Linked DNA regions of Homo sapiens. The protein of the gene in region 1 purifies or fractionates together with the protein of each later gene. This does not show direct contact. Each region holds a gene or a part of one and is shown on either strand. Other genes may lie near its edges.

Region 1 (8,043 bases):
GTTGTCAAAAAAATTGGGGCTCCAACTTTTTGAGCCCCAAATCGAAACCAATTTACCTGAAAATATCTGTTTGACTCTAGGCTTGTTAAGAACTCAACTTGCCTGCTAAGGATTCTTGGGGGAGAGAGGGACACTTCCCTCTCATTTGTTCTGGAAGCACTTAGGTGACTAATTAGAGGAGTAATTGGTTTTCAACTTTTAAAAAGCCCATGAATGGAAGTCCTATCTGGAAATCTGTCTAGCAATGCATCTCATACGGAAATCTGCAAGCCCATTCTATAATACCTTTATCGAATTATTCAGGAAAATATTTTTATCTCCAGAGGAAGTTTCTTGAGACCAAAACCTGAGCCCATTTTTTTGGGAGGGGGGACAGACATAAAAATCTCTCCACTTCCAACCCATCATCACAATGTGTTAAGTCAGTTGTTTTATTAAAAAATAAGCACTATGCTTGGGTTTCATAAAATTTATACATGAATATGTACACAGACACAAATAAAATAATATTAAAAATAAAAATCACACTTGCTTTCAAGGCAGTGGTCCTGGCACCCCACATACATAATCAACTTTTCCTTTAAAGAAATTGCTTGGCCCAAGGAGACCACAGTTAGAGAACCACTAATAAAGCTGTAGCCCGTTGCCTGCAACATTTTCAATTCGGGTTTCAAAAATATATAAATAATTTAATTACAAAACCCAACATTTTTTTTCTCTTTTGGCACAGTGAAGCATCGGTCAATAGCAAGAAATCACTGAAGAGCCTCTGACATGTCTCTCACACTCAGTCATACCTGGAAATGCCACATACGTACACGGATGGGGGCCCAGAAACCCCAAACAGTAGTCATATCATTTATAGTGTGGAAAGGTTCCCTGATGTACTTAGGGGGGAGGGAAGGGACATAAATCAATGGAAGTTGCGACAAAAACAGTAGAAATAAGACGAAGCCTGGGCGTTAAAGAAAGACAAAAAAAGTCCTTATGAAGGGAAGGAGGAGCAGGCTTCGCAAAGAAACTAAAACAAGAATTGCTTTGGTCCTCTGTAAAGTTATAAAACACAAAGGAAAATATCCTGGACTAAGTTTAAATACTCCTGTCAAAATGCTTTAGCTTTAAGGCACGTTTGATGGAGATTTTAAAAATTCATCTTCCTCTGGATTCAAAGTGCAAAGTCCGCGCGCGGGCCCGCGTTCCCGCCTCCCCGACGGCGCGCACTCGGCGTTCCCGGGCCCCGCGGCGCTACTCAGGCTAGGAGCGTCTCCACCGGGTACGGCAGGTGCGGGCCAGGGCGGCGGACTGAGGCCGCCTGCAGGGCTGCGGGCAGCCGCAGGGGGCAGTACAGGTGCGCGCCGCCGGCCGCCGGGCCTCGGAGTGGCTTGGCGGGGGCCGCCGCCGGGAGAGGTGCAAGCAGGAGGGGCGGCGCGGTCGGTGGCACCTCGGCCTCGCGCGCGCCCAGCCGCGCCGGCTCGCCCGCGCCGTACGCGCAGAGCGGCAGCAGGGCCCTGCAGGGCGCCGCGGGGAGGAGCGCGGGGAACGCGGGCAGCGGCGGGCAGGGCGCGGCGCCCCACTGAAGCGTCGTCCCGGGGGCCGTGTCCCTGAGGCGGCGGCTGCGGAAGGGCTTGCGCAGGATGCTGTCGATGGCGAAGGAGCTGGAGAACTTGCCCGCGGGGCTGGCGCGCTCCTCCTGGCGGGCGGGCGAGCGCATGCGGGGCGAGGCCGGGGCGGCGGGCGCGGGCGGCGGGGCGGCGGGGAGGCCCGGGGCCTCCTCGGGCCGCAGCCCGGGCGCGGGGACCGGCGCGCGGTGGCTGAGGCGCTTGCGGCGGCGGCGGAAGACCCCGTCGGCGAAGGTGTACTCGCTGTTGGGGTTGAGCATCCAGTAGTTGTCCTTGCCCCAGGGCCGCGAGGGGTCGCGCAGCACCTTGACGAAGCAGTCGTTGAGCGAAAGGTTGTGGCGCACGGAGTTGCGCCAGCCCGTGTAGCTGCCGCGGAAAAAGGGGAACTTGCCCATGAGGTACTCGTTGATCTCCGCCAGCGTCAAGCGCCCGCCCGCCGAGTCGCGGATGGCCATGGCGATGAGCGCGATGTACGAGTAGGGGGGCTTGGGCCGCCGCGTATATGGCTTGCTGCGTGCACCCTCGCCGCTCCCCGCGCCGCCCGCGCCTGGCCCCGCCGCCCCGGCCTCCGCGCCCTCCGCCACCACCGCTGCAGCAGCTGCTGCCGGGATCGCCTCCTCCGCGCCCGGCCCGCCTCCCGCACTCTGTTCGCCGTCGCCCTGCGTATCTCTGGCGCCGCCGCCCGCGGCCGGGCTGTTGGCCGCGCAGTCCCCATCTGAGCCCAGGGAGTCGTCTCCCGCCGCCGACAGCGGGGACGGCGCGTCGCTGCCGCCCGCGCCCTCCAGGTCACTGCCCTGCTTGTCCCCGTGGGCCGCGCGAGGGACGAACACCTCCAACTTCATGCCCGCGCACCCAGTCCCTCCCCGGCGTCGTACCCTCTTCCTTCGCGCAGCCTAGAGAAGCTGGTGCCAGGGAAGGGGATGGCGATCCGGGGCCGGGGATCTTCGCCTTTTTCTCCCGGGAGCTCTACCCTGGTCTTCCGAGATAGTCACTTTTCCGGAGTCCTCTTCCGCTGGGCTTTTTCTCTGGAGGGGCTGCAAGTGTTGGGTGGACTATGGGGCGGAGAGGGAGGAGTTGGGTGGGTGTCGCCTTCGGTTCGACGTTGAGACTTTGGGGTGAGTGTGTGCAGGGGCCGCGGTTCCACCCTCGGGTGCCCGAGCACGCCGGGCTTAGAAGGCTTTCCTGCCGGAGAGAAGCAGCATGCGCATCTGCTGCTCGTTAAAGAGCCCAGGAGGGGTTCTTCACTGGCGGTCCCAGGTCCCGCGCGGGCGTCTTCGGGGCACGGAAATGGTGCCGGATGATGTGCGTGCCACCGTGGGGGAAGGTCCGGCGCCTTCAGCCTTGAGCACCCGCGGAGGCGAGTCCCCGAGGCCGCTGCGCCCGCAGCCGCCTTCCCGCTCCCAGCCTCCGGGGCAGCATCTCCCCGCTGGCCTGCCGCGGCTGCGTCTCGCCTCCACCTTCGGGCCGGCCCAATATAACCCTGCGGCGGCTCCGCGGGGGCGGGGCCTGAGCGCGGACGGCAAGGGGTGGGGGAACGAGGTGGCCGAGGTGGTGGCGGCTCCCCAGTTCCCCAGCTCCCCAACGGGCGCGCACCAGGCGGAGGCCACACTGCAGCGCGGCGGCAAAGTCGCTGGCGCAGGTTGTTTGTTTTGGGTCGGCCGGCCCCGCCTTCCTCCTCCCGCCAATGGGGAGCGCGCGCGCCGCTGTGGGTTTGCGCGTGTCTGTGAGTGTGCGTGTGTGCGCGCGCGGGGCCGCTCCGCCAGCCGGCTCCTCCGTTCAGGTGTGGGCCCCAGCCCCGGGCAGCCCGCGAGGGCTCCCTGCGCCCTGGAGTTCGGGGACGCAGTTTAGGCGAGTGCGCCTGGTTGGGGGGACACGCCACAGTTCCCCTAGGGGGACACCTGAAGGGACTGGGTCTAGGGGAGCAGGGACTTTGCTCGGGCCTAAGCTGCACGCGGCGTATGTGCTTCTGTAGTAGTGAAAACGATGCTGCTTACGAAAGCAAACCCCTGTCGTCACTGCAGAGGTGCTGAACAGAAATTGCGCAGGACACTTGCAGTGACCTCTTTCGGGAGCCTTGTGCTGTGCCCCTTCCTATGAGCTCCTTTCAAGGACCATCTTGTCTTTTCCTCTTGTTTTAATGAATGCACTCCTGGGCTTGAAATTGTATGCGCCTTTTTGGATGACCTTTACTCTTGCTCACTAAATGGGCTCCGACTTTCACTTTTCTTTGTCTTACTTTACCTTTTTCTTTACCTGGCTGGTGACTCCTGCGGGAGGACAGCAGCGTCCTCCTCTTCCCCTGGGGCGGCTGTGTCTGGCGCAGGGTGCTGGGCTGTGCCTGCACTTGTGTCCCTGCGGAAGCCTCAGATGCCGCCGAGCTCCGCCGCTTGGTTCCCGGGATCTGACAGTCAACAGGAACGACGGAGAGGGCGTGTTCCCGGGGGCGGGGGCAAGAACAAACCGGTTCACGGCCATTTCTTTCCAATATTCCTTTGGGACTTTTGCTGTGACCTCACTGGCACCAGTGTCGGACAATCTCGAAAGGGGGGACCGTTCCTCACCCCAGGGCGCCCGGGGCGTGATCCCCACGCGGCGTCATTAGTCCAGGGAGCGGGCGCCTCGGCCCCGGGAAGGTGCACTTCCAGCCCGCTGCCCTGCCACGCCGAGTTTCCTCCTTTTTCCTGCCTTTGTTGCACAAAAAGCGACGGAGCCGCTAGTAGGTGGGAGCTCACCTTTGATGTTTATTTTATTACTTTCCACCATTTGTGTTGAAAACGTACACAATCCTCTCTTATCTTTATTCAGGGAGTTTTGAAGCCATTCACAATGGGGCGGGCAACATGACAGCCCCAGCCACAGCTCTGTTATTTTTGTATTTGGGGAAGGATCGCGTTCGGAGATTAGACTGACTTTATTAAGTATGCGCCTCGGGAGCCAGGTGGGGAATGGCTGCTTTTTGGGAGATGAGCCTTTCTGGAGGGGTCTGCTCAGCTCTAGCCTTGGAGTTGATGGTTCACTAGACCTGGAGAGGGAAGTGGGATGAGACAAATATGTATATCTATATATATATAGCGAGGTAAAGAGGCTTGGATTTGGCCAGGGATAAAAGGCGTTCGTAATGAATGTTTTTCTCTCTTGAACTCTGGGGTTGGGCAGGGCAGGAGGGCACATGACTATTTGATGGGGAAGGTAAAGCCAAGGAGGCTTGAGGTGGGACCCGTGGTCGCTACAGAGTCCAAGGGAGGCCTCTTCGAGACTCCAGGGCCAAGGTGTCCTGCCACCAAGGAATGCTGGTCGCCGCCAGGGAAGGTGGCTCACCCCACCTCCATGTCCCACTTTCCCCCTTTCTTACCCAACCTCCTCCCCTCCCCAGCTGCAGGGGATCCTCTCCTTACCCTGATTTCATTTGGGGCAAGGGGGGCAAGGACCTGCCCCACCTTTTATGTCTATCCTGTGGGCTGCTGTCTGCAAGTTTGGAGCCTGAAAAGGTTGGGGGGCAAGAGAGTGAGTTGGAGGTGGGTGAATTCTCAGCTGGAAACCCTTTGCTATTTTTAGAGTGACTTAGGGAATGGGCAGGTGAGAGGTTGCTTGCAGCCACCTAAGTGGACTTTGAGAAGGAAGATGGCATGGCAGGCCGTGGACCACCTGGATAGGATTAAAACAAAACAAAAACAAGCAAACAAACAAAAAAAAACCCTACCTCAGCTAGAATGGAAGCTCCACTAGAGCAGGGTTTTTTTCTTTTTTTCTTCATGACTGTATTCCCCTATCCTTGACACATGAATGTGCCATTTGCTGAGGATAACATGATTGTCTTCTGTTAAAACCAGAAATAACACTGCTTTTTCCATTTGTGGTTGATGTCGGTATCAATTTTAGCTGTTGTTTTACAGCGGGGAAATCATTCACCTTTTGCAGCTATCAGAGAAACCGAGAATGTATGGAGCAGGGCGTGTCTATCCACAACACCCTCAAGGCTGAATACAGTTGGGGAGACCAGACGCTGCCAGACGTCACATGCATTTTTTTAAAGTTTCCCAGAAGTGCTTGGATATTTCTGCCCCTTAATTCCCATTCCTTGGGGAGTACATTGATGGGTTAATAAAAAATGCCTGCAGGTGGAGCTTGACCAAACACTTGTAGGTAAGAAACACCTATTAGCTTATTTTCCCCCTTGCCCTTTAATTTCCATGGAGATAAGTGAATAAACTATGGCAAAAGATAAGTTCATATTTCCATGATCGTATGACCTCCCTGAAGTGGTGATTTTAGGAAGATAGTGCATGTATCTCTGGGCACAAAGTAACTTAATTAACTGTGGAAACTATCTGCAAATTTAACGCTTTCCATAATTTGATAGTGCTTCACTGACCCAGTTCCTAAACACTAATCTTGGGAAGAAAATAATTTAATTCCTAAAATACCTAAGGTGACTCCCTGTGGAAATATTGATGACTTGCCCTATGCATTAGAAGATCACGCAGGCTCCCAGCCCAAAGGGACTACAGAACAATCTTGATCACATCCACCCAGCAACCTGGAAACAGCTTTGAATTTCTTGTCGTGTTAACCTCTGGATCTGAAGAGAGGGTAAACTTAAAATTACCTTCCCATGGGGACCTGGGACTCTGGATGAATCTACAGTACAATGCTGTGAAGAACTGAAGAGCCTCAGGCTTAGAGACCAGGCTAATGTTGAGAGTCCCAGGGCAAAATGCATGGCTCTGAATCCTTGCAGAGTCTCCCTAGGGGCATGGAGAGGGCCCTGACTTGGGGCTCGAGGTCAGGTGGCAGTGAAGGGCCTCTACAGCGATAAAGCCCAGCTGCCTCTTTACCTTTCCTCATAGTGAAAATACATGGGAAGAAAAGGAGTGCTTTGTCCAACTCTGTTCTAGCCCATTTCATGGTCTGGTTGATTCTTTTGGTAGATGCTGAACACTGGAAAAATCCTGCAAGGATTGAAGGTGAGTGTGGAAGTAGACGGAGAAAACTTAGGCATTTTTACGTGTCTGTATTTTTGCTTCTTTCCAAAAATGTTTTAATAGGGTCAGGCTCATTTGTTTGTACATTTACCATGTTTGTTTGAACAGTCTTCTTTCGGTTTCTTGAGCAATGGGCATGGTTTAATCCAAGAATCTTAGAATTTGGCTGGGCATTACTGACCAGGTGCAAAACCAAGGGCTGTGCCTGAAGTTTTCTTTTGAGACCTCAGGAATTATAAGCAGCAAGAAAGCCACTGGGTACCCATTGAATTAAGTAGTTATTGGGAGGTGGGTCCTGGGGAGTGGAGAGAGGCAGGGAGGCAGGCCTGATAATGGTGGAAAAGAGAAAAAGAAGGATAAAAGGAGGAGCAAAGATGTGCAGATACAAAGCTAGATCATCTACAGTACGACGAAGGTTAGGGGTCATTGAGAATGCTGCCTGATTCTGTCACTCAGAGACGAAATCCTGCACACTCTAGCACCATGTGTGAAAATACCAATGTAGGAAGGAAAGGCCCGGGGCTGATTTGTTACAAGGTGACAGCTTAGATAGTGGGATCATGGAGTCCATTCTTCAGAACTGGCTAGATCTTAGGAACCTCATTGTCTAGTTTTAGTCCAGTTTTTCTATTACCTGAAGTTCTTTAAATTTTGAGTTTTACAAGCAGAACAAGGAGATTTAACTTCTGTTTGCAATGAGTGATCCAGTTCTCTCTTTTTAACTTTGAGGCTGTAACCATCCACAATAAATTAGTAATCAGACCTTTCCTGATATGTATCAAAGAAGGAGACTGTCTTTCTATGAAGAGAACTGACGCACATCCTTGGAGAGGGCTCCATCATCATACTGTCATACAAATCTGGGCAAAAGAGGGGCAAGTGCCAAATGAGATCCAGTTTGGATACATGAATATTAAGTTGTACAAAAAAAACAAGGTCTTTGCAGGGCTTCCTGTGGAGCTGGGGAAGGGTCTATGTCCCTTGTCTTGGCCAGTAGTCCCTCAAACCTGGATCCACAGTCTAGGTTTATGCATTTGGAGTGGATATGGCGGGGTTAACTCTCCCATTTAATTCCAGAGAAGGCATTACCACTCTAGGTAGGTGTGGGCTTTGGAGACAGATAACCTTGGGTTCGTATCTCTGCTCTACCAGGAAAGTTACCACACCTCACCTTTTTTAAATCTAGAAGAATAACAGTTATAGGGATTTTAAAAACTGAACTACTATGTTCTAGGCCCTTATTAAGTATTATTTATGTCTCTCCTTCCATTTCATACTTGGAAACTTATTTTGGAGGGGTATACTATCTTTGTAAGCCCAGATAGGCAAATTCTTCAGAATTAATCAACCAAGTAAACTTTCCGGGTAAAAACTGGAAAAGTGAAAAATAGTTCCTGGAGGAATGAGATATTTCTTGGGGTCATCTAATCCTAGTCTATGGC
Region 2 (7,209 bases), on another chromosome or scaffold:
TCTAAGCCCCTGCCCCCACAGCCTGCCCTTCTGCTTCTCTCTGAAGCCAGAACCTTCTTCCCAGCTGGTTTTACATCCACCATCCTTCACAGTCAGTGTGCTGCTCTCACCTGGTCATTCCCACCCATCTGTGTGGGATAGTAACTTGCCTCCTCTCACAGAAACACAGCTGAGTGTCCTTTGGGTGCTCAATGTGTCCAAAGCCACACAGCAGCCATGTGGCTGAAGAGGGCTGGGTGCAAGACCGCTGAGGCCCTGCACCATATCCTCCCCTTCCCTCTGTCCCAGCTCTCAGCCCTGCACAGCCTGACACAGGGGAAACACAACAGCCATGCTTCCACTAGGGTCTCACGTGCCGGGGGCATCCCATTAAAAGGCTAGTAAAAGCCATGACTGGGTGGCCAAGTGAGTGCATGCCTCAGGCCAACTGAGAGGACTATAGGGTCCACATTTTGGGGGTCACTGGGAGCAGCCCCTTAGAGCCAAGTGGGATTCCGGCAGCACCATGACAGCAGCATGGGGTTGTTGGCCTGTCTGTGGGAAGAGACCCCATGGAGGCTAGGACGACCTCCCCATCCACCTCCGCCCCACAGTGGCTCGCATGCTCATAGCGTGTGTGAACTTCACCCTAGCCCTGTTCCCACCCTGCTCTCCTCAATAGGGTCCCCTATCGCCAACCTGTGCTTCTCTGACTCACTGCCAACCACAAGAAGACCCTGGCCACAGCTTGGGCCCTGCAGACACCCCCTGCCCTACCCAACAGAAACCCCAGTGGTGCCATGGCGCCTTGGACGTACGTATCGGCTCAAGCTGTCCTTCTCCTCCGCCTTCCGCTTCTTGGCTTCCATGCTGTAGTCCGCAGAGCCCCGGTGCTTCTCACTGGCCCGGAGGCTTTCCGAGGGTGACACAGAGTTATTCTGGAAGGAAAAAGAGGGTTCGGGGTTAAAACTTTCTGCTGCGTGTAACAATTCACACATCCGCACACAGCTAAGTGCAGGTGACACGGAGGTCAGGGGAGGGAAGAGAAGCTGAACTCCTCTCTGCCCTGCAGATCGTGGCTCCATCAGAGCCTTGCCAGGGAAGCCTTCCCCACTCCCCTGAGACTGAGTCCCCGGGGAGATGCCCTGGGCGCATCCCCAATTCTCTTTTGCAGCTCTGCACTGCTATTAAATAATTAACCCTGCAGTAAGCCGTCTGCCTTCTGGCCTGTGGGACTACGCTCTGTGAGGGCGAGGGTCACCTGGGTCTCATTCACCACCCATCTCGCGCTTGCCACACTCATTTGCTCAAAGGAGGGATAAGTGGAATTTGCACTGAGTCTTGTAAGATGGATCTGAGCTGACAGGCAGGGGCCATGAGCAATACTTCATTTGCTGAGCCCGACAGGAATGGGGAGATTGATAGGGAAGGAGGGCGTCAGGCAGCCACCAACTTCCCAGTGGAGATGAGCAGCCAAGCGTTCTGTGTGAACACCCCCGCCTCCACGGTGAGGCTGTCAGCAACTCTGGAGAAACACCAGGGTTGTAAAAAAAACAAAAATGCCACGTCATGAAGCCTTTCCCTCTGACAGACAGGGAAAGGAGCAAGGGCAGGGACAGTCACTGCCTCTGTAGCCATCACCAAGTGGAGACCCCAAGAGGTTGGTGAATGTGCCCAAGCTCCCCTAGCAGAAGGTGGCACAAAGGGAACCCCAAAATTTCGTGAGTTCTCCCTCAACTATAAAGCAAATGAGGATGAGAAGCCTTTGGGATGGGAGGCCTGGGAAGAGGGAAGATGACGGAGTAGTCCTAGGGGTTGATAGTGGTCAGAAATCACCATGTGGCTGTTACCACCGAGCTGGGGAGCAGGGAGGGAAGTGCAACTGGCAAGGGCACCTGCCAGCAAACCTCTGTGCCCAGAGACTAATATCAGGACCAATGCCCCTCTATGATATTGGTGAGGTTTACTCCTTTCTAAGAGTCCAAACTTTACCTTCACCCACCCACCAATTTCCGAGCAGCTGCCCTGGGTCAGCCCTGGTGCTGCAGGCCAGGAGTGGCAGAATGAATGAGATACAATCCCTGCCCTCCAGGAGCTCATGGTCCAGCTATGATGGAGCTGGAAGAAAAGGACAGGCCATCCCAGGTCCCAGTCCCCATGCAACACAGGAGGTCATATGGAGACCCAGAGGGACATCTGTTCAGAAGAGAAGAGCATCAGAAGGCAAGTGGAATGAGGCTTCCCTTCTCTTCTCCACTTTCCCAGAGGCCAAGCGTGGCTCAGGGGCAAGGGCCACTTGGAGGGAACGGGGCTGGGCAGTATTCGGTGGGAATAGTGCGGCAACCAGCCTCAGAACTTAATTTCCTTTCCTAAGCCGGGTTCTGGGCAGCCCTACCCGGCCAAGTTTCTGCCCGAAGCAAATTAAAATGGCAGAGTTATCAAGCCTTGAAGAAAAAATGGAGGTTATAATGGAACTGCAGCTCAACCTTCCCCACAGCCGTGCAGGAGCGGTGGCGATGCGCGCACAGCCACAATTCAATTAGCTGCTGCAATCGCCGGCAGAAAAATCACCGTCATTTCATTTCATTTCCTCTGACGGTGGTGGCCACCCTGTGCTAAGCAGAAATGCTTCCAGCCCCTCGCACTGGCTGCCCCTTGCAGGCGGGCGGGCAGGGGAGGGGGCGTGCGGCTGCTCGTGTTTCTCCTCGCGACCCGGTGCTCGGCTCGGGAGAACAGCGAGCTCTTTCTTCTCATGCAGTCAGGCTGAAAACCCTCGCCGCTACCGGAGAGTCATGTCAGGCATTTAGCGGCATCGATCCAGCCCGCCTCTGGCTGGCAGGCGGCCAAAAAACTAAGTATTTTTTATTGCTTCGGCTAGGCAAGGAAATATGAATGAAGCTACCACTAATTGGACTCCAGACTAACCCCTCTGGGACAGCTTCCAGCCCGTCCCCCCATCCCCCCTCCCACTCTGACACAGCCCTGTCCTTCCTGCCGTAGGCCTCATCTGTTGACAACCTGGTTTCCAAAGCCTGATTATTTCAGTCTACACCGCCGCTGACACCGTCACCACGCCACATGCCATGCGCACAGCCTCGGCCCTGCCCACTGCTGCCTCTGCCCAGCATCTTGATTCATTCCCACTGGAGTTTCCTGAGGCCCATGTGTGCCATGCATGGACCTCAGCGAGCATGGTAAACAGCCCAGCTCTTGGGGGTTCCCAGGGGGGGTCTTTTAGCAGAAAACTTTCACAGATGGGGCACAAAGCCAGAAGCCAATAGGGATGAGGATGAGGTAAAGACTCATGCTCTTTAGAGAGTGCTGGGCTTCCCACTCCCCCTCCAATTCCACTGAAGTGGGTCCCTGCTAGCCAGGTAATCTGGATCCTCAGTCAGGTTATAAAGGGTCTTCCGAAACAAAGCTGAGAGGTTGGTCAAGCAGGAATTATTCCCATGGTATGGATAAGGAAACTGAGGCTCAGAGAGGCCAAGAGAACTACACAGGGCCTCATAAAGCTGGGACCAGACCTCAGCCTTAAAATGTCCAATCCAGGCCTCCGCCTATCTAGGCAAACTGCCTCTCCGAAAAAATGCCACTGTTAGAGGATCAGTACCGAGGCAGTGAACATGGATTTTCAGCTTCAATGACTCCTCTCTTAGGTACCTAGCCATTCCTCAGCCCAAATGTGGTCCTGGATTTCTGAGCATGTAGGCGGGTCAAGAGGCCACGGACGCCAGCCTCACTGCTAATGGGAGGTTTAAAAAGTCAGCCTGGGTAGGGGGAGGGCCAGGAAGGGAAGGAGGGCTGGATTGGAGAGAGCTGCGCAAGGAAGCTGCTGTCTAGATGGTTAGTTAACTGCCTGACCTTCCAAGTCCTACTTAACACGAGGTAATAACCAAAGCCATCCTAACAGATTAGATGGCCCCAGATACAAGGACAGCGATGAGGAATAAAATAGCTTTGCTAATCGCTGGAGGATTTTTTTTATCCAGACTCCACTGCGCTTATTCAGAAGGCTTATTCACTTGAAACAGAACCTCGGAGCCTCAGTGTGATCAGAAAGATTTACAACAAATCTCAGAGCTGGCAGACACGCAGGCGGCCTGGCCTTAATGCTCGCCTGCTAGCACTTTCTTAAATCGAGTGAAAGCCCAGAGCAGGGAGAAACTGCAGGCGTTTGAAGGGAATGAGGAGGATGCAAGATCATACAGGAGGCATCCTAGCAGGGGGGTGGTAAAAACCTTGGCCCTGAACATGGGACACCTGGGTCCTTAGCCCTGGGTTTAGCCCAGAGACTCCACAAAGCCCCTCGCAATGGAAGATCCAGGGCTGGTCAGCTGACCTCTCAGAGTATCACCTCTCATATGAAACGGAGTTAGAGCTCATTTAGCCCAAGCTCTTCATTTGACAAATGGCAGACCTAAAGCCTGGAGAGAGGAAGGGCTTCCACAACTGAAGGTCACTCTCAACAGGTGACGACAGCAGCTCCCATTTTATGACAGTAGCTACCCCTCACCCTGCCACTGGCTCTGGACTAAGACATCAGCACTGAAGCTCCCAGCTCAGCAAGAGTAAACAAACAACAAAATCCCTAGTTACAACCCACAGAGCAGAAGCGGGAACCCAGAAGCCAGCTTTGGATACCGACTGACTGGTCTCAGGCCCGCGATTCTGGGAGCCCCGAGTCCCACCTCCTCCCAGCACCCAAACACCCCTCCGGGTTCCAGAGTGCCAACACTTACCGCACTGGATTCTCTCTCTTTGGGGAAAGAAGGCCAGGACAGGAGGAAGGTCAGGCACCCCAAAACAAAAAGACAAAAAAGAAAGGAAAAAGGTCAGTCTAAGTCCAGCTGGCTTTTGTGATTTGCTAGTGCACTGGTTTTAAAATGAGCAGAAGGCCTGGATTGCTGTCTCCGTGGATCAGCCAAGGCAGGGCCATTAGGTGGCGTTTCTCGGTTTGGAAATTTGCCACCCAAATTCCAATGCTGCCCCCACCCCTCTAGTCCCCAGGGTGGGCAAGGGAGGCCCAGTCCCCAGGGTGGGGAGGGTAGGCCTTTGACCCAGTTCTCCCTGTCATGCCAGAGGGCACCAAGTTTACTCTTTAGCAGGCTAGGGGTCTTAAGATCACAAGCTTGAGAAGGATCATGCCATATAAAATACCAGTAGGACCTGGGAGTTAAGAACTTTATTGTTAAAAAAAAAAAAAAAAAAAGGAATTTAACAGTGGTTTAATTTTGTTTTTGAAATTAACACCATTCTGTGATTCTTTGTCAGGATGCCCCTAAAAGCTGAAGCCTCTGAAACTGTGCCCAGCTAAGCACTAGCTCCCCAGTTCTCCTGTCTGCTATGGAGAGGCCCCTCTTCCTCTGCCAAAAGGACCATCCTACTGTAAGACAAAAAAATGTAGCCTCCAGTTCCCTGGACCGGCTACCACCCTGTGGCCTGGGCCAAGGCAGGATGGTGACATTCCAGGTCCCTAGTGCTCAGAAGGTGTTGGCTACGTGCCCCAGTAAATACCGTATCTAAGGGCAGAGTGCATTTGGCACCAATTTTTGAAAAGGGCCTCCCAGGGAGCCAGGCTTTTCTCTTTTCTGATCCAATGAACCACTCCTGAGGCCAAGCTCGGTGCAGCTTCATGGGTCCTCATGGTAGGGGCTGCAGAGAGGGTCAGAGAACAAGTTCTGACTCCAAGTCTATGTGATCTCTTGCTGGGGTGTGCACTACCCCCACTTACAGGCAGTCAGCTAACAAACCTTTACCTGAGCACTGACTGTGCACCTTTCCCAGGTTTCTGCATTGGTGAGACATAGATGTAAGGAAAACACCCAAGAACTTGGCACCTGTCCTAGGGAACTAATGATCGTGGTGAGCACAAGACATTTTCCAGGGGTAGGATGTAAGACGACAGTAACAAGGACTCAACTTTGGCATCCCAACTCTTAAACTCTTACAGGAACTTGAAAAAGCCCCTAGTCTGACCAGGAAGGCATCCTGAAGGGTTGGACTGGGGCTGGCCCCTGAAGGACAGGCAAGGGTGTTGTAGGAAGATGGGAGCGAGCTCCAGATGAACAGACAGGGTCTTCAGGACAGAGAATACCAGGTCCACACCAAGGAGTAGGAAAAGGTGCATGGGATGCGGATGGCATTGGCTTCCCTGCACCAGGTATCAACAGATGACTCCAAATCCTTGGTAACTCCTGGTCTTAGGACGACAGCACTTGCTGGGTCCACTCACTGTGAGGCCTATGAGCGCCCATGCCCACCCCTGCCCCGCCCCACCCTCTGCCCCAGCCCAGCCGCACCTCTGTGATCGAGTTCATGGTGGTTCTTCTCATCCTTCACCGTCAGATGGGCCTGGCTGCCCAGGGCGCCCAGTGCCAGCAGCCCGGAGCTGCTCCCTGTCACTGGGGGGATTCCTGGAGGCTGGAGACCTGACGGGTGGGGTGGCAACTGGACCGGGGGGCCGTGTGTGGCATGGGAGAGGTGCTGCGCCTGGAGCTGCTGCTGCTGCAATGAAGTCGGTGGTGAGTACAGCTGAGTTGGGGAGGGCAGGGGAGGCGTGGCCACCTCAGGAGGGAGGGAGGGAGTGGCTCTTCCCATTCCTCTTGCTCCTTCACTGGGTGGGTGGCAGGGGGAAGCACCCCCAAAACCTTTGCCCCCAGCTCAGTTCACATGAATGTCTCGCTGAAGGAAGTCTGTTAATAGACTGTAATGTAAAGATTTATGTCTTCAAGCACCCCCCAACTCCCTGCACCCCCGTTTCACAAATAATTTCTCAATGTTTGTTTCCAAGCCTGAGATAAAGAATGCATGCATTTAAAAAACCGCAGAGTCATGGGGTTCCCTCTGAGTAGAGAGGGATCCATTTTTAAGCTCACAGCCCTGGCAGTGTTTGCTCATGCATACATGCCTTCAGCATTAGCTGCCAGCATCTTCCACCCTGAGGCTGGACCCTGGGGAAGGCTCCTTATTTCTTAGGAACTCCAAGCCTGCCTTACAGAGCAGGGGCAGGGCAGGTCATCACAGCAAAGGCCCCAGAGCCAGATGAGCTGGGGGCCAGTGGAATGAGAGCTAACGTCACCGGACATCAGTGGTGGAAAACGGGGTAACTGGAAGAGTGGAGGCTTTGGAACTAGACAGAACAGGATTGAAATCCCAGCTCTGGCACTTCCTAGCTGTGTGGCCTGGGGCAGGTTACTTCAAGTCCTGGAGCCTCAAATTTCCTTATCT

The links.
Region 2: the proteins of FOXQ1 (region 1) and TLE3 purify together in Homo sapiens (affinity purification with mass spectrometry; 2 studies listed by BioGRID and IntAct, with this or other methods). This does not show direct contact.

The regions. Positions count from the first base shown.
Region 1 is NC_000006.12:1,307,123-1,315,165, reverse strand, and holds FOXQ1 (forkhead box protein Q1), read right to left. Parts: upstream 3,069-8,043; 5' UTR 2,462-3,068; coding exon 1,250-2,461; 3' UTR 408-1,249; downstream 1-407. UniProt on the Homo sapiens protein: Plays a role in hair follicle differentiation.
Region 2 is NC_000015.10:70,059,733-70,066,941, forward strand, and holds part of TLE3 (transducin-like enhancer protein 3), read right to left. Parts: intron 6,487-7,209; coding exon 6,282-6,486; intron 4,739-6,281; coding exon 4,722-4,738; intron 918-4,721; coding exon 798-917; intron 1-797. UniProt on the Homo sapiens protein: Transcriptional corepressor that binds to a number of transcription factors. Inhibits the transcriptional activation mediated by CTNNB1 and TCF family members in Wnt signaling.